2 separate regions of the Homo sapiens genome follow, and region 2 is linked to region 1. The links come from fine-mapping of genetic effects on gene expression. Tissue or cell type: whole blood. Region 1 holds a variant in brackets; the other region holds the start of a gene. All regions are shown on one strand. Distances are from middle to middle.

Evidence for each region. PIP is the estimated chance that this variant, and not a neighbour inherited with it, causes the effect.
Region 2: SASH1 starts here. The variant in region 1 is fine-mapped to the expression of SASH1 in whole blood (INTERVAL, PIP above 0.99).

What each region holds. Positions count from the first base shown.
Region 1 is chr6:148,423,256-148,431,438 of GRCh38, forward strand. The region is part of intron 2 of SASH1 (SAM and SH3 domain containing 1); the gene reads left to right. Among named protein-coding and RNA genes, the nearest start is that of SASH1, 85 kb to the left of the region's middle. The variant A/G (reference allele first, on the strand shown) is at 3,211.
Region 2 is chr6:148,338,821-148,347,003 of GRCh38, forward strand. SASH1 (SAM and SH3 domain containing 1) reads left to right here and starts at 4,018. Exons shown (of 20, transcript NM_015278.5): 1 at 4,018-4,403. The coding sequence starts at 4,248. RefSeq lists enhancers at 2,665-3,244, 8,093-8,183.

The sequences.
Region 1 (8,183 bases):
TTACATCATTATACAACATGACTAAGTCAAAAGTTTATTTATTTTAAAAGCAAATTTGTGGCTGATGATTTCAGAATGTATTGGCTTGCAATTGATTCTGGAGCTTTTTAAAGATGGTTACACAATATTTAAAGATGGTTAGAAAATATGGTTCAGAGAATGAGAAAGTGGTTAAATGTCATGATAGCACCACATGATTTTACAATAGCAAAGACAACAATAATAGTGACACTTCATTAGTACAAAATGTGAGCTGATCTATTAGAGGAACCATTCAAATTTAGCACCTCCTGTTTGATCAGGCTGCATAATTTTGTAAATCCCTTATTCAGTCACCCAATCTGCATACTAATCAGTTCCGACGTTATTTATATGATAACATGAAAGCCTTTAATTTTTTATATTCTCAGTTACTGTTTCTCTTGCTTAACTGCGAGCTCTTGAAGGTCAGTGACTGTTTTTTTATACTGCCAGTACCCAGCACGTCAACTGAGTACAAACTGGTCAGGAAACACTCGTTGAATAGATGAAGACATAAATGTTTGTTCAGTTGTAGGCTGTTGCCAACTTTGGAAGGTCGTCTGTTTCAAATGTTTGAGTGATTGGGCTAGAACTTGCAGTTCCTTCTCCCATTAAAAAAAACTCATGTAAACGATAAATTATACCACAATAACTTAATTTCATTTCCAATGATTACACTCCAATCAAGTAGTGGAATTATAGTAGTCGGTCAGAGGTCTGACCAGTTTCTGAAGAAAAAAAAAAAAAATCCCCATCCCAGACAGCAGACAGTCCTGCAGTCAAGCTTGAATGCTCCATTGATGTGGTTTCCACATGTTGTAAGTAATTTATTCTATTGTTGGACACCTGGCTCTGCTTGCCCTCCTCCCCCATCCTTTTTAATAAAATGATGGTGAGTCCATCTTTGTCTTTTAAAAAATTTTTTTTCTTTTAGAGACGGTGTCTTGTTCTTCTTCTTTTTTTTTTTTGGGGGGGGGAGGTGGGACAGGGTCTCGCTCTGTCACCCAGGCTGGAGTGCGGTGGCGCAATCTCAGCTTACTGTGGGTTCAAGTGATTCTCCTGCCTCAGCCTCCCAAGTACTTAGTATTACAGGCATGTGCTACCATGCCTGATCAATTTTTATATCTTTAGTAGAGACGGGGTTTCACCATGTTGGCATGCTGGTCTCAAACTCCTGACCTCAAGTTGTCCGCCCACCTTGGCCTCCCAAAGTTCTGGGGTTACAGGCGTGAGCCACCATATCCGGCCAGATGGGGCTTGTTCTGTTTGCCCAGGCTGGAGTGCCGTGGTGCAATCATAACTCACTGTAACCTCTAACTCCTGGCCTCTAAGGATCTTCCTGCCTGGGCCTCCCAAAGCACTGGGTTTACTGGTGTGAGCCACTGAGTCCAGCCTCCTCTTAACTTTAAAATCCTTAGTCTTGATCATCCCTTTTAGAGCACTGAAAACCAGGCCAGACTTCAGGTGGGGCTCCAGATACACCTACCCCTTCACCTGCAGGCCACTGAATCTGACTAGAAGCAGCTCTGAGCAGCCTTCTTTGGACCAGTAGTTCTCAAAGTGTGGCTCCTCAGCCTGTAGCATCAGTGTCACCTGGGAACTTGGTAAAAATGCAGATGAAACTCTTGGGTAGGACCCAGCAATCTGTGTTTAAGAAGCCCTCCAGGGATTGCAAGGCACTAAGTTTGAGAACCGCTGACAGGGCTTATTGGAACATGGTCCCAGGGCAGAGCGGTGTAAGTGATTCCCATGAGCAGTACACAGGATGGGTGATGTGTACTTCAGCGGCATACTTGGTCATCATGGTCAAGGGTCCCTGAAGCTCATGGAAGAGATGAATTGAAGCTTCAGGCATGGAGTCCAAGGTGCAGTGGTCAGATGTGGTGGGAGGCAGCTCTGGACCAGCACGGCCAAGCTAGCTTCAGGATGAACACTGCATGCACAAGGCTGCACGCAAGAACTTTGTCAGTATATTGTAGTACCTAATTGAAAAATTAAACTAGATTTAAAATCTGTTATGTTTTCATAAGAGATTTCACTGTGTCTGTTAATGAAATAAGGTGCTTTTACATTCTTGAAATAGAAATTGCCGTATTTCTGTTGGCTGTAAAATGCTTAATAAATTTAAAATGGTTGTAAAAAAGGTTAAAACAATTTTTACCTCTTAGTTTGAGTAAAACTTCTTGTTACTAATAACCAACAAGAACATCAAGAGATCATCATTAAACATCTTGATCTGGAATGGCATATAGTTCTTTCAAGCATATAGACAGTTATTTCAAAGACAATTATTTTCAAAGAAGTAAGCTCAACATTCTTGAAAAAATTGGAAAATATTTTATTTAAAAGTATTATGTCAATTCGATATTTAATATCTTCACTAATACTCTGATTTTTTCTCTTTCCCCTCCCCTCCCCTCCCCTTCTCCCCTCCCATCCCCCTCTCCCTTCCCCTCCCCCTCCTCCTTTTTTTTTTTCCCTGTCCCCCTGTGTCCCCCAGGCTGGAATGCAATGGCACAATCTTGGCTCACGGCAACCTCTGCCTCCTAGGGTCAAGTGATTCTCCTGCCTCAGCCTCCGTGAGCCACTGTGTCTGGCCTGATTTTATTTTCTCAATGGTCATTAGGTATTACTTTAAAAGAATACTTCTGGCCAGGCGTGGTGGCGCATACCTGTAATCCCAGCACTTTGAGATGCCAAGGCGGGCAGATCACCTGAGGTCAGGAGTTCGAGACTAGCCTGGCCAACATGGTGAAACCTGGTCTCTATTAAAAATACAAAAGTTAGCTGGGTGTGGTGGCACACGCCTGTAATCCCAGCTACTGGGGAGGCTGAGGCAGCAGAATGGCTTGAACCTGGGAGGCGGAGGCTGCAGTGAGCCGAGATCGTGCCACTGCACTCTTTTAGCCTGGGCAACAACAGTGAAACTCCATCTCAAAATAAATAAATAAATAAATAAAAATAATAATACTTTTTTTTCCATTTAAAATTTTCTCAGTTTCTCCTAGTGTGCAGTGCGCTCTCATTGTCAGGGGACCGCTGTGGGGAAAGGGGTCGGACAGCTCTGCACTGGGCAGTTCCCTGCTCCCTGGAAGGCTTTCCCATGTTTATATTTTTCTTCCCTTCTCTGTGTAAACAGCCCTGCTTCCTCCAATTGATCCTGAGTATTTGATACCATTTCCAGACACC[A/G]TTCTAGTGAAGGTGCTCTGGTTTCCATTGTCCCCGGGAAATGTGGCATCCAGAGCTGAGCAGAGTTACCCAGATGTCATGTGCCTGGTGCCCGAACAGAAGGAGTGTTGTACCTGTGGCTTAGAGTTGAAATGCAAAGTGAGTGACTTAAGAATTCACTAGATGGAAACCCCACTGAAGTGGTGCGTGTCTGTTTCACTGTTTTATCCTCGTTGACTTATGGGCTCAGTAACTATTTTTAAAATGATGGAATGATTAGATGAAAGAGGAGATGGAAAAAAACAGAGAAAGCAAAAGGAAATGAGCTTATGTAGTGCTTCCTGTCACTTTTGTCTTATGTTAGTCAATCCCAGTGAGCAACTGGATGTACTCAGAAGATCACTTAGTGGTCGGGCACGGTGGCTCACACGGGTAATCCCAGCACTTTGGGAGGCTGAGGCGGCTGGTCACTTGAGACCAGGAGTTTGAGACCAGCCTGGTCAGCATGGCAAAACCCCATCTCTATTAAAAATACAATATATATATACATGCTCAGTGTGGGTGGTGCGTGCCTATAATCTCAGCTACTCGGGTGGCTGAGGCAGGGGAATCACTTGAACCCAGGAGGCAGAGGTTGCAGTGAGCTGAGATTGTGCCACTGCACACTGCACTCCAGCTTGGGCAACAGAGTGAGACTCTGTCTCAAAAAAGCAAAGGAGATCACTTAGTGAGCATGGGATGAGAACAGGGAGGGTGAGAGGATTCTGGGGATAGCCACTACCATCTAGAATGGCCAGATATCATGGTCTTTACCCCTGGGAAATTCACCCAGGGGGTGGATTATAGTGTGGATATGCCAAGTCCTGCTAGTAGAATGAAAAATTGAATTATAGAACTTGTTGGATTTGTTTTTTAGGATAACTAAAATGTCTTCATGGACACTGTGTCTTTTAATGATTACATTTATATAACATGACACTCTGGTGTTTTGTACACTGTAAAAGGTGCATTCTTCTAACACAACACTCACATCTTATTGAAGTGATCCATTGCCACATTGTGGTGTGTAGATCTTATTCTTATCTCCATGCAAAATGCTTGGTATGTGGTATGCACTCAACATTGGTAAAGTTGTAGCTTAAACGATCTAGTACATAGTTTTAAACAAAGACAGTTTAGACATTAAAGCAGTATACGCCTTGTTTGACATGAGGTGTGGGAGCACCAAGCTTGACCCTCTTAGATTCAAATTACTCCTGAATTTAACCAATTCAACTCTGATGTATTTTAGCACAGCCATGCTTCAAGATGGTGGAACTTACCCTCCTGTCTTCCCAGACTGATTTCTGTTCCTGCCCTGGGTACTTCTTGTCTCCTCTGAATGGGTACGGGAGTGTGGACCTCAGGGAGGCCCCCTTGGTATGCTCCTCCGCTTTCATTCGGGGATCTCAGACCTAATTTCAGCTTTGCCCAATGTGAAAGCATTTCCAGAGCAAGGTGACTTCTTCAGGAATTTTCCATGTGGTATCTTTCAGAGTAATAGTGTGTTATCTCTGCCAGAAGCCAGAGGAGAAATTTTTACTCAGAGAAAGAGCCATTTTCCTATGGCTACCTTAAGACATAAAAGTATAGTAACATCCATCTCGTAACTGATCATGTTGTCTGTCTGTACTGTAGCATCCCATGGCTCACCTTTTATGAACTAACTGAATCCCTGGGCCTACTCTACTTTGTAGTCTTGTTCCCTCTGCTATTTGTGTCATATAAATTAATTAGCTCTTTAGCTTTTTACTTTTATCATGTAACACTGAACTAAGTTACTTAGCCATCTTAAGTCATTTTCTGGAACGTGGTGAGGCCTAAATAAATAAGTAACTAATAACTGCAGAATATAAACTATCAGGCCGGGTGCGGTGGCTCATGCCTGTAATCCCAGCACTTTGGGAGGCCAAGGCAGGCGGATCTTAACTTGAGGTTAAGAGTTCGCGACAGCCTGGCCAACATGGTGAAACCATCTCTACTAAAAATACAAAAATTAGCTAGGTGTGGTGGTACACATCTGTAATCCCAGCTACTCGGGAGGCTGAGGGAGGAGAATTGCTTGAACCTGAGAGGCGGAGGTTGCAGTGAGCTGAGATGGCGCCACTGCACTCCAGCCAGAGCCACAAGAGTGAAACTTTATCTCAAAAAAAAAAAAAGAGAATATAAACTAATACAGCAAAAGGCTCAATTATTTTAACAGAGAGCACTAATGGCTGGGTGGAAATTGCCACTTCAGGTTTCTTTCTTATGAAAGCTTGCAGAAATTCACTGATCCCTTAATTATGGTGAGACTTAAAGGTTGCAGTTAGTGGAATAGAATTCTTCAGCTGTGAAATAAAAATTTCCCCCTTAGAACCTTTCTTCTTTGATATGATGGGATGAGAGTACTTTTCCTTCAGTTTCACTCGGAAGAAAATTTCTTATACCAGGCCAAGAGCTTATGGGGGTCCAGAACAATGACTAACATCTTCTGCTATACCTCGAGCAATACGGGTGAAATGAGACATGAAAAGCTGAAGAGTTAGGTATGGATGAAGAAACTGACAGGCCACTACTGATTTTTACCTAAAAGTGATTAAACATTACAACATTCTGTTTTAAGTTCTTATGTATCTAGGTTGTAGATCTTAAATATTTGTTGAATTATTTTTGCTTCCTAGTGTAACTCTGCAATCCAAAAGTAAATCTTAAATAAAAACATGAAAATACACATCCCATGCAGTAAAATTGCAAACACAAATTAAAGGAAGGAAGCTGGGCATGGTAGCACATACCTGTAGTCCCAGCTATCCAGGAGGCTGAGGCAGGAGGATTGCTTGAGCCTGGGAGGTCAAGGCTGCAGTGGACTATGACTGCACTCCAACCTAGGCCTGGGTGACAGAGCAAGACCCTGTCTCTTAAAAAAAAAAAAAAAAAAAAAAAAAAAGAGGAAGGAAAAAAGAGTCAGGCTTATTGGCAAAGTGATCCAATTTAAACAAACCAGGCCTAGGACAGTTGTTCACACTTCTAATCCCATCATTTTGGGAGGCTGAGGTGGGAGGTTTGCTTGAGGCCAGGAGTTTGAGACCAGCCTGGCCAACATAGCAAGACTCCATCTCTAAAAAAAATAAATTAGGCATGGTGGTGTATACCCACAGCCCCAGCTGCTTGGGAGCCTCAGGCGGGAGGATCACTTGAGTTTAGGAGGTCAAGGCTGTAGCGAGCTATGGTCACACCACGGTACTCCAGCCTGGGCGACAGAGCAAGATCCCATCTCTTTAAAAAAAAACAAAAACAAACAAACAAACAAAAAAATCAATAGATTCCCAGTAGTACTCCCTTGTACAGGGAGCCTGTGCAAGGCTGTAGAAAGTAACATTCTCAAGGGGATGTCCTGGCAGATAGTAAATGCTAAGTAAATAGATTTTGATGGATTGTGGTGGCATACAATGAATTTCAACAGGAATTTATTGGAAGGCCATTTACAGTCTAGTTGAGGAAAACCAGTAAGTGAGTAGAAGAGTCGCTACCCATAGGTACATTTAATGAATAAGTGATGTGGCTAGTCATTGGTGTGCCCATACTCAGGGATATCATTTAAGGCCCAAGTGGGCAGAGAAGGTTAAATAGGAGAGCGTATTGGGATTGGAGCTAAAGGATGAGTAGGATTTGGATGGATAGAAAGGAGAAGCACTCTAGGTAGCATAAGCAGAAGTGAGACACCAGGCTCAGTCTGCACTCAGGGAGCAGAGGACATGGTAACTGTTCACTAAGAGGGTTTATGATCAGGCTATTTGGTGAAGGGGGCTTCTTCTTCTGAAACGTGGACTTCATCCTGTCAGTATTGTGTTTCCATGAAAGATTTTGTGGATTTCGTTTTGTTTTAGTCAGAGTCTCGCTCTGTCACCCAGGCTGGAGTGCAGTGGCGCCATCTCAGCTTGCTGCAGCCTTCGCCTCCTGGGTTCAAGCGATTCTCCTGCCTTGGCCTCCCAAGTAGCTGGGATTATAGGCGCATGCCACCATGCCTGGCTAATATTTGTATTTTTAGTGGAGATGAGGTTTCACCCTGTTGGCCAGGCTGGTCTCAAACTCCTGACCTCAAGCGATCCACCCGCCTTGGCCTCCCAGAGTGTTAGGATTACAGGCTTGAGCCACTGCACCCTGCCTCCAGGAAAGATTTTGGAAGAGAGAAGTGACACAGAAGCAGTGAGTTTCTCAAACAATACACATCACTGGGGAATTTTGGCAAATTGCAGATTTTGATTCAGGAGGTCTGGGATGGGACCATGACTGGATGTATAGCAGGTTCCCAGGTGATGCTGATGCAGATGGTCCACAAATCACATTTTGAATAGCAGAGACACAGAGTACTATTTCCAGAAGATGGAGTTGACAATAGTGATTAGAGGGGCATGACACCACTTATAGCCCTTTTAGAGTAAAAAAGGACCCTAAAGATTATCAAGTGGTCCATTTGCCGTTTGTTGCCATTGGAAAAACCAAACCAAACAAAACAGGTTCTAAAGGTTACACTACAGCAGGGAGCAGAACTGGACTCCAGTCTCCCAGCTGACAGTACTTTCCATGCAGCCGTATGCTGGTAGCCCAGGTAGCTGTGAGGCGAAGGACTACAAGTGGAATGGATTCACTGGATGGATGCCAGAAACCTTGGGAAGAGAAAAGCAGTAGCTTTGGGCAGCTGATTTAGTGGGGAGTGAGAAGACTCCTAAGACAATAGATTTTTTTTTTTTTTGAGACGGAGTCACTCTGTCGCCCAGGCTGGGGTGCAGTGGCACGATCTCGGCTCACTGCAACCTCCTCCTCCCGGGTTCAAGCCATTCTCCTGCCTTAGCCTCCCTAGTGGCTGGGACTACAGATGCCGGCCTCCACGCCCGGCTAATTATTGTATTTTTAGAAGAGATAGGGTTTCACCATGTTGGCCAGGCTGGTCTCAAACTCATGACCTCAGATGA
Region 2 (8,183 bases), 84 kb before region 1:
ATGGTGAAACCCCATTTCTACTAAAAATCCAAAAATTAGCCGGGCGTGGTGGCAGGCTCCTGTAGTCCCAGCTACTTGGGAGGATGAGGCAGGAGAATTGCTTGAACCCAGGAGGGGGAGATTGCAGTGAGCCGAAATCGGGCCACTGCACTCCAGCCTGGGCAATGAGCGAGACTCTGTCTTTAAAAAAAAAAAAAAAAAAAAGAGAGAGAGAGATAAAAAGCCCCTGAAGGAAATTTTAGAAGAAAGGAGTGACAAGTGACATTAACTAAGAGAGAAAAGAGTCGTCAATCTTGGGAGTGGTAATCAGATCATGTTGAGTTAACACATGGAAATTGATAAGTAGAAAGTAGCTGGGACTACAGGCCACATGCTGCCATGCCCAGCTAATTTTTGTATTTCTAGTAGAGACGAGGTTTCACCATGTTGGCCAGGATGGTCTCAAACTGCTGACCTCAGATGATCCTTCTGCCTCGGCCTCCCAAAGTGCTGGGATTACAGGAATGAGTAACCATGCCTGGCCTCAAATTTCACATTCTATGTATAGGCATCAACATTTCTCCCAAAACATTATCTCATTTCCCTATCCATTGATTAAGAAGCACCAGGAAAAACAGCTTAAATATCTAGAATAGGTTGATTTCTATAAGTGCCAAAATGCTGGCTAAGGTTTAATTATATGTGTGTGTATATATATAGATATATAATTATAAATATAGATATCTATATAAATATCTATATAGATGTATTTTTTGAGATGGAGTCTCGCTCTGTCGTCCAGGCTGAGTGCAGTGGCTCACTGCAACCTCCACTTCCCAGGTTTAAGCGATTCTCCTGTCTCAGCCTCCCAAGTAGCTGGGACTACAGGTGTGTGCCACCATGCCTGGCTAAGTTTTATATTTTTAGTAGAGATGGGGTTTTGTCATGTTGGCCAGGCTGGTCTCGAACTCCTGGCCTCAAGTGATGTGCCTGCCTCAGTCTCCCAAAGTGCTGAGATTACAGGCATGAGCCACCATGCCCGGCCCGTTTAATTACACTGATGCGGGTATGTGTTGTCACTAAACTGTACGTGTCTTTAGATGACCCTGAAACATACTATAACCTGTGAAGAAGCAGGTGGCCATTAGTATGGCCTTGCCTCATCTTGGATGGGGAAACTAGCACCAGGTCAAATGCTTTGCCCCAGGTCATCTGATGAGTCAAGAAGAAAATGATTCTGGATTGGTGCTGGAGAGTCAGGCTTCATCCTAACCCCAGCCCCAACTGCCCGGCTTGCCTGGCTCCTTGCTGAGTTATTTGCTGGAAAGTGTTTATGTAGAGAACAGGCTGCCCCTTGGAAGCAGCACAGTCCTCTGCATCTTCTTAAATTTAAGAAAGTACCAGGCCAGGCACGGTGGCTCATGCCTGTAATCCCAGCACTTTGGGAGGCTGAGGCGGGTGGATCATGAGGTCAGGAGTTCGAGACCAGCCTGACCAATATGGTGAAACCCCGTCTCTACTAAAAATACAAAAATTAGCCAGGCGTGGTGGTGCATGCCTGTAATCCCAGCTACTCAGGAGGCTGATGCAGGAGAATCGCTTGAACCTGGGAGGCAGAGGTTGCAGTGAACCAAGATGGTGCCACTGCACTCCAGCCTGGGCGACAGGGTGACAGAGCAAGACTCTGTCTCAAAAAAAAAAAAAAAAGTATCACGTGGTGAATAAATTCAAATTCTTAAATATACCAATACAGTCAACTGTAAAGGCTATTTATCTTTTCCTATCATTTACTTATATTTATCTATTTATAGAAATGACAATTAAAAAAACCTCATCAGCCTTAACTGAATTTATTTTTATTCAAAGTATCACAGAGCACGAGGGAGCCTTGAAAACCCATCTGGCCTAACTCCGGCATCAGCCTAGGAAAGCACAAGACCTGGCTGTACTGACTCATAGTTCAGTGCTCTTTCTACTTCAACACAATGCCTCAATGCTATTAAGGAGAAATTTAATAATTCTTTTGGTTTCCTTTCACAAACATTATCGTCAGAGACTGTGCGCAGTGGCTCATGCCTATAATCCCAGCACTTGAGGAGACCAAGGAGGGAGGATCCCTTGAGTCCAGGAGTTTGAGACCACCTTGGGCAACAGCAAGAGATCATGTCTCTATAAAAAATTTAAAAAATTAGTCTGGTGCAGCGGTGTGCCTGTAGTCCCTGCTACTCAGGTGGTTGAGGCAGGAGGATTGCTTGAGCCCAGGAGTTCAAGGCCGCAGTGAGCTACGATTGCAGCACTGCACTGCCGGGGTGAGAGAGCAGGACCTTGTCTCTAAAAAAATTTTTCAGCATACTTTTTTTTTCTTTGGAGACAGAGAGTCTTCCTCTGTCACCCAGGCTGGAGTGCAGCAGCAGGACCTCACTGTAACCTTCGCCTCCTGGGTTCAAGCTATTCTCCTGCCTCAGCCTCCTGAGTAGCTGGGATTACAGGCATGTTCCAACACTCTTGCTATGTTTTGTTTTTTTTTTTTGTTTTTTTTTTTTTTGTATTTTTAGTAGAGACAGGGTTTTGCTGTGTTGACCAGGCTGTTCTCAAAATCCTGGCCTCAAGTGATTCGCCCGCCTCAGCCTCCCAAAGTGCTGGGATTACAGGCGCCAGCCCCGCACCCGCCAAAAACACACAAAAATTATCAGGGATTGTGTTTATAAATTTAGTTACTTTTGAAAATGTTTTTACATTTTGAACTTTCCTGTAAGGACTATTCACCCATTGCATTGATTGGTGCTCACAGCACTTAATACTTGAACAAGGGGAATTCAAGGACATGCTCTTATCCCCTTTCAAGTGGACTCAGAAGGAAAACAAAACAAAACAAAACAAAACAAACAAACAAACAAAAAAAACCCCACAATCAACAAGAAACAGGAGAGGCCTCAAAACAAGCAGGGCTCTCTCCCTGGGGCATCTCACTTTTTTTTTTCCTTTTAAACCACAAGGCCCTAACAGAGGAGCAAACTCCATGTGGTTTCTTAACTGTTTCAAAAGTGATCAATCACCAAATCGAATGTGACGTGCATTGTCACCTTCCAAGGAAAACTCTGAGTAGTCTTGAAAGATAGAATCACAAAAGGGAAAAATCACCTCTCCAGGGCTAGTTCCCTTATAAAATAAATCTGTCCTGGGGCTTCCCCTTGGAAAAACACACACAGGGCCCCAAGTGTGTGTAGGCTGACTGGCTACACAATCATTTGAATTTAGTTTCGAAAATAGCCCTTCCCTGTGTCCCTAATGTAAAGGAATAATTAAAACCCAAAGCGCATTTCCCTTAATTAGCCGAAAGCCCTAGCAATGCATGGCATTGTGGGCATTCAGGAGCCAAAATGCCCCCACTCATAAAAAATGATCCAAACAATGGCTCGTGCCCAAGCTTTCACACTTGTTTTGCAGAGAAGTCTTGGCTGGCAGAGGCAGGATTTGTAATTCCTTGGGTCGCTTGACTTCACGAGGGGCGAGGTATGCATTGTAGCGACACGGACTACTTGTGAAGCCTTTGGGCGGGAGTCGCTTAAAGATTAACTTTCTCGGGTTTCCGTTACCAAAAGCGTTTCCGTGAATAGCGTGATTGGAAACTTGTGCGGGCCGGAGACCGCGGCGCGGCTGCTCTTTCAACAGGCGATTTGTTCTCCTGTCCGAGGCTCATTTCCATGCAAAGAGCCTGACATCAGAGCACCTTTTGTTGCTAAACGCTTTCTTTAGCCTCGAGGGAGAGAGTCATGTGGAGCTGGAAGAGCTCATTTTGAAGAGAGGGGTCCCGGGGAGCTCCCTCCAAGATCTAGAGGCTCCGCGGCCACCCCTGCCGGGTCCTGCCAAGACTTGCTAGAAGGAACGAGTCGCGTGCCTTAGTTAGTTGGTTCCCGTCACAGGAAGAAACGCCTTTGCAGTGGGTTTAATTGCTTCTGGGCCGAGCGAATTCCCCGCCGTACAACTCAGTGGTGCGGACTTTGCCTCCTGCTACCCTGTTGCTGCGCCGAGCGGGGTGGGAAAGTTTCTGGAGTTGTCAGTCGCGCAGCCCGTGGCCACCTAGACCCGAGGTGCGGGCGCCTGCGAAGGGCCCCCGCGGGGTGGCCGGGGCCGCCGGGGCATGCAGCGCGGGGGCGCGGCTCGGTGACGCCGCGGGCGGGGACCCGGCATCCGGGCAGGCTGCGCGCGGGTGCGGGGCGAGGGCGCCGCGGGGACTGGGACGCACGGCCCGCGCGCGGGACACGGCCATGGAGGACGCGGGAGCAGCTGGCCCGGGGCCGGAGCCTGAGCCCGAGCCCGAGCCGGAGCCCGAGCCCGCGCCGGAGCCGGAACCGGAGCCCAAGCCGGGTGCTGGCACATCCGAGGCGTTCTCCCGACTCTGGACCGACGTGATGGGTATCCTGGTAAGTTACCTGGGGAGGGGGCGGCGCAGGAAGTACAGTTCGCAGCAGCCCCTCTGAAACCGGGGGCTCCCTTCTCGCCCACCCACTGGGCAACCCACTCCGCAGAGGCGTCCTTCTCTGGCTCTAGTTCTTAGGGGGCTAAATACACACAGTATAGGATTTCAAACCCTAATTAAAAAATAACCAGCCACAGGTCCCGTCAAAAGGTGTTTTTTAAACAATCGGGTATGATATTCAACAGTTTAATCTGGGACACCTGCTGACATGTTGGTGTGGAAAAGGCGAGAAAGAGGCCTTCAAAAAGTAGATGTAAATAAATATTTGGTTGGTGCTGGATTAGGGAAAAGGCTGATGTTACTGATGTTTATCTCTTCACCATTTGTTGTGTGACCACAAGAGGGAAAACAAACATTTCCTTACTCAGAACTGCCAAAATGTTTGCCTACTTTTTTTTGCAGTTTTTCAATTTGTGGAGTTACAGGATATTTGTTTTATATGTTTGGGGCTAAAACAATAGGACTTATTTTGCTAAATCTGTGCTGTCATGTATTTTGAAATGTCCAGTGACTAAAAGCGCCCCTGGATTTGGCATAGTCTCTGGGAAGCAGTTCTTCTGTATGGAGGGTGAAGTTTTAACCTGCTCAGGGTTGAATACCTTGGGGAAGTAATAGATTTGCTTTGGTGGAGCTGTAGTTAGGCAGGTAGACTGGAATCAGATGGGCGAGGTTTATTACAGTCAGACATCTTAATCCATACATAAAAGACAACTTTAGTTTAAAGACTTGGAATGGCCAGATGTGCAGATTATCAGAAAAGTCTCTAGATTTGCTTTGAGATCTTATATTTTTTGAGTGGGAGGAGATGGAGTGAAAGTTCTTCTTTGGGAATGATAAACCGTGTACAGTTTTTAGCACAGTGATTAAACTCTTGGGCTTCAAAGTAAGTTATACTAGGTCAAATGCCAGCTCTCCAATTGACTGTTTACATGATCTTGGCCAAGTCATTCAACCTCTCTGATCCTCAGTTTCATCACCTGAAAATTGAAGAAAAGAAGACTTGCTTCTTGGGGTTTCTGAGATTTAGCTGGGTTGATGTGTGTATCAAGTACTCAGCAGACTGTATAGCATATAGTAGAGGCTCAATAAGTGTAGCTGTCTTTCAGGTTTTATTTGTTTCCTGCAAAGTCTCCTGTCTCTTCCTTCTGGACATCCTAAAAGCCCAGTTACTCCATTTTCAGGTGACCATTGGTATTTATGATTCTTACTATACAGAGAACCAGCGAGCGTTGGTTAAAGATTTCTATCTGCTCTTGTCACTCTCCAGTATTGAAAAATGTATATAAATATGCATGCAATGTATATTTACATACTATATATAGCACATGTATATAATATACCTAAATCTAATATATATTTTAGATTTAAAAGGTTTTGTTTTTGCATTTTCTGAAGTATACAGATGAATATGATCCTTCACTGAAGTTCCAGAAAACCTAATGGACATTTTAAAGTTGTGATAAACTTTTTCTTTTCTTTTTTTTTTTTTTTTTTGAGACGAAGTCTTGCTCCGTCGCCCAGGCTGGGGTGCAGTGGCACGAGCTCAGCTCACTGCAACCTCCGCCTCCTGAGTTCAAGCAATTTTCCTGCCTCAGCCTCCTGAGTAGCTGGGATTACAGGCGCGCAACACCACACCCGGCTGATTTTTGTATTTTTAGTAGAGACGGGGTTTCACCATGTTAGCCAGGCTGGTCTCGAACTCCTGACCTTGTGATCTGCCCACCTCGGCCTCCCAAAGTGCTGGGATTACAGGCGTGAGCCACCGCGCCCGATAGACTGTTTTTAAGTTATCCTGTTATTTCTTGTCTAGATCCAGTTCTAAGTTTTCAGTCACTGAGGAAATTGGTTTGATAATATCCCATTGTATCCCTTACTCTAGGGCGTTGGGCTGGGGGCGGGGAGGATTGGGGGCCTGTTTAAATGAAACTTGGGCTGAGGGTTCTTTTGGGGAAGAGGGTTGGCCAGTGGCATTTTCTGCAGATTTGCTTTCCCTTCCCTGACAGATTCCAGCACTGTTGGGTCAGTTGTAGTGGAGTGTTCTTTGGCTGAGTTAAAAGATGGGGTGGGGCTTCAGAAGCTCAAACCTGCTATTGAAAGGGCAGATGCAGGAGCAAAGAAAATATGTACTTCAGCTAATCATTCAGGATCAGGCTGGGAAGAACGTAAAGCCTGTCCCAGACAGGTTGTGTTTGCTCATGTTTTCCTCTTGTTTATCTGGGGTAAACAGGCATGGAGATTGTTCCTTAGTAAAATTCAGAGGAAGACATGGCTTACTGCTCCTTTGTAGATGTCTTGCAGGGAGACACCAGGCTAAAAGGGAGGGAAAGCTGTCATCCAAGTGTTTATACAAACTGAGTCTTCGGGGAAATACATCAAGACACAAAATTAACAGTTGACTTTATTCTCACTGAAACAAGAGACACCATTTCCTTCCTTTTTTATTTAAAATATAAGATTTTGCAATCATCTATCAATCTAGACAGGTGAAGTGACTTGGCCAATGGCACATACCATGTTAGTGACAATGTTAGACTTGTCCCTGGTCGCTGGCCCCTCCAGTAGGGATCCTGATGTCATGACGCTCCATAGTTAACTCTCAGATGAATTCAGTAGAAATGTAGTTCAGTACATTTAGAAATCCTGTGTGTTTTAGGTAAAATGTGACTTACAAGATTCTTTTTCCGTACTGAACTTGAAGAGGACAGTAGAGGTAGTTGGGAAATTACACATCTGAACATTATCCTTAACAGATTTCAGACACAGTTCTACCTTACTTTTTCAGATTATTCTAATTGTGGAAATCAAACCACACAGCTTATCAATACTGTATGTGGAACTTTGAAATGACAAAACTCACAGCTTAGTAAGTGAAAACATTTTTAGGTGAATGAGCAATATTGAGCAGTTGTCCCCCAGGGGATTTTGTTGGTTATAACCCAGTGAAAGTATTGCCCCAGAGTCATGGATCTCAGTAAATACAGGATGGTTGTTTGAGTTCATTAGGACACATTTTGCATTTAGATTAATTCAGTCCATGCACAGTTAAGCACCAAATAGTTGCTTTCAGATAATTGTTAACAAAGTGCTCATTTAGAAAAGAAATAATAGTATAATTTACGGCATGAAAATGTTTGAGCAGTACTAGAATAAATAAATGCTAATAAGTGAATATATAAATGGATATAGAATTAAGAGAAAACAAGCTTGCAAAAAAAAAAAAAAATTAACTAGATTGTGAGTGCCTGGAGGGCAGGGTCAGTGTCTTACTCATTTTTCTATCTCCAGTGCTCCTGACTTAACTGGGTGCTGAGAACATGGCTTTGTTGAAAGAAAAAGGGGAAAAGTATGTATTTCTTAAATGCAGGAGTCACATCAAAGCATTGTTCTGTCAAGACACATGTGCCTGCTGTAATGTAATGGGTTACATTTATAAAGATGTGAATACATTCTGCTCTGGCTGAAACTGCATTTTGGGCAGTTTCATCGTGCAAATTAAAATCCCAGTGCTTCCACTGGAAACTAATGGTAAACTGCAACATGTTTATAAGCCCTGAGCTATTAAACCTTGGCGTTCTTGTGAAATGTGCCATTCTGTTCACTAACACCACGACATGTGGTAGGCCAGGGTTTTCAAAGCATGTCACTTCTCCCTGTGACATGTGTAGACTTCTATTGAGAAGTGCAAAACTGAGTTAGAATCCTGTGGAATTTTACCCTTTTTTCT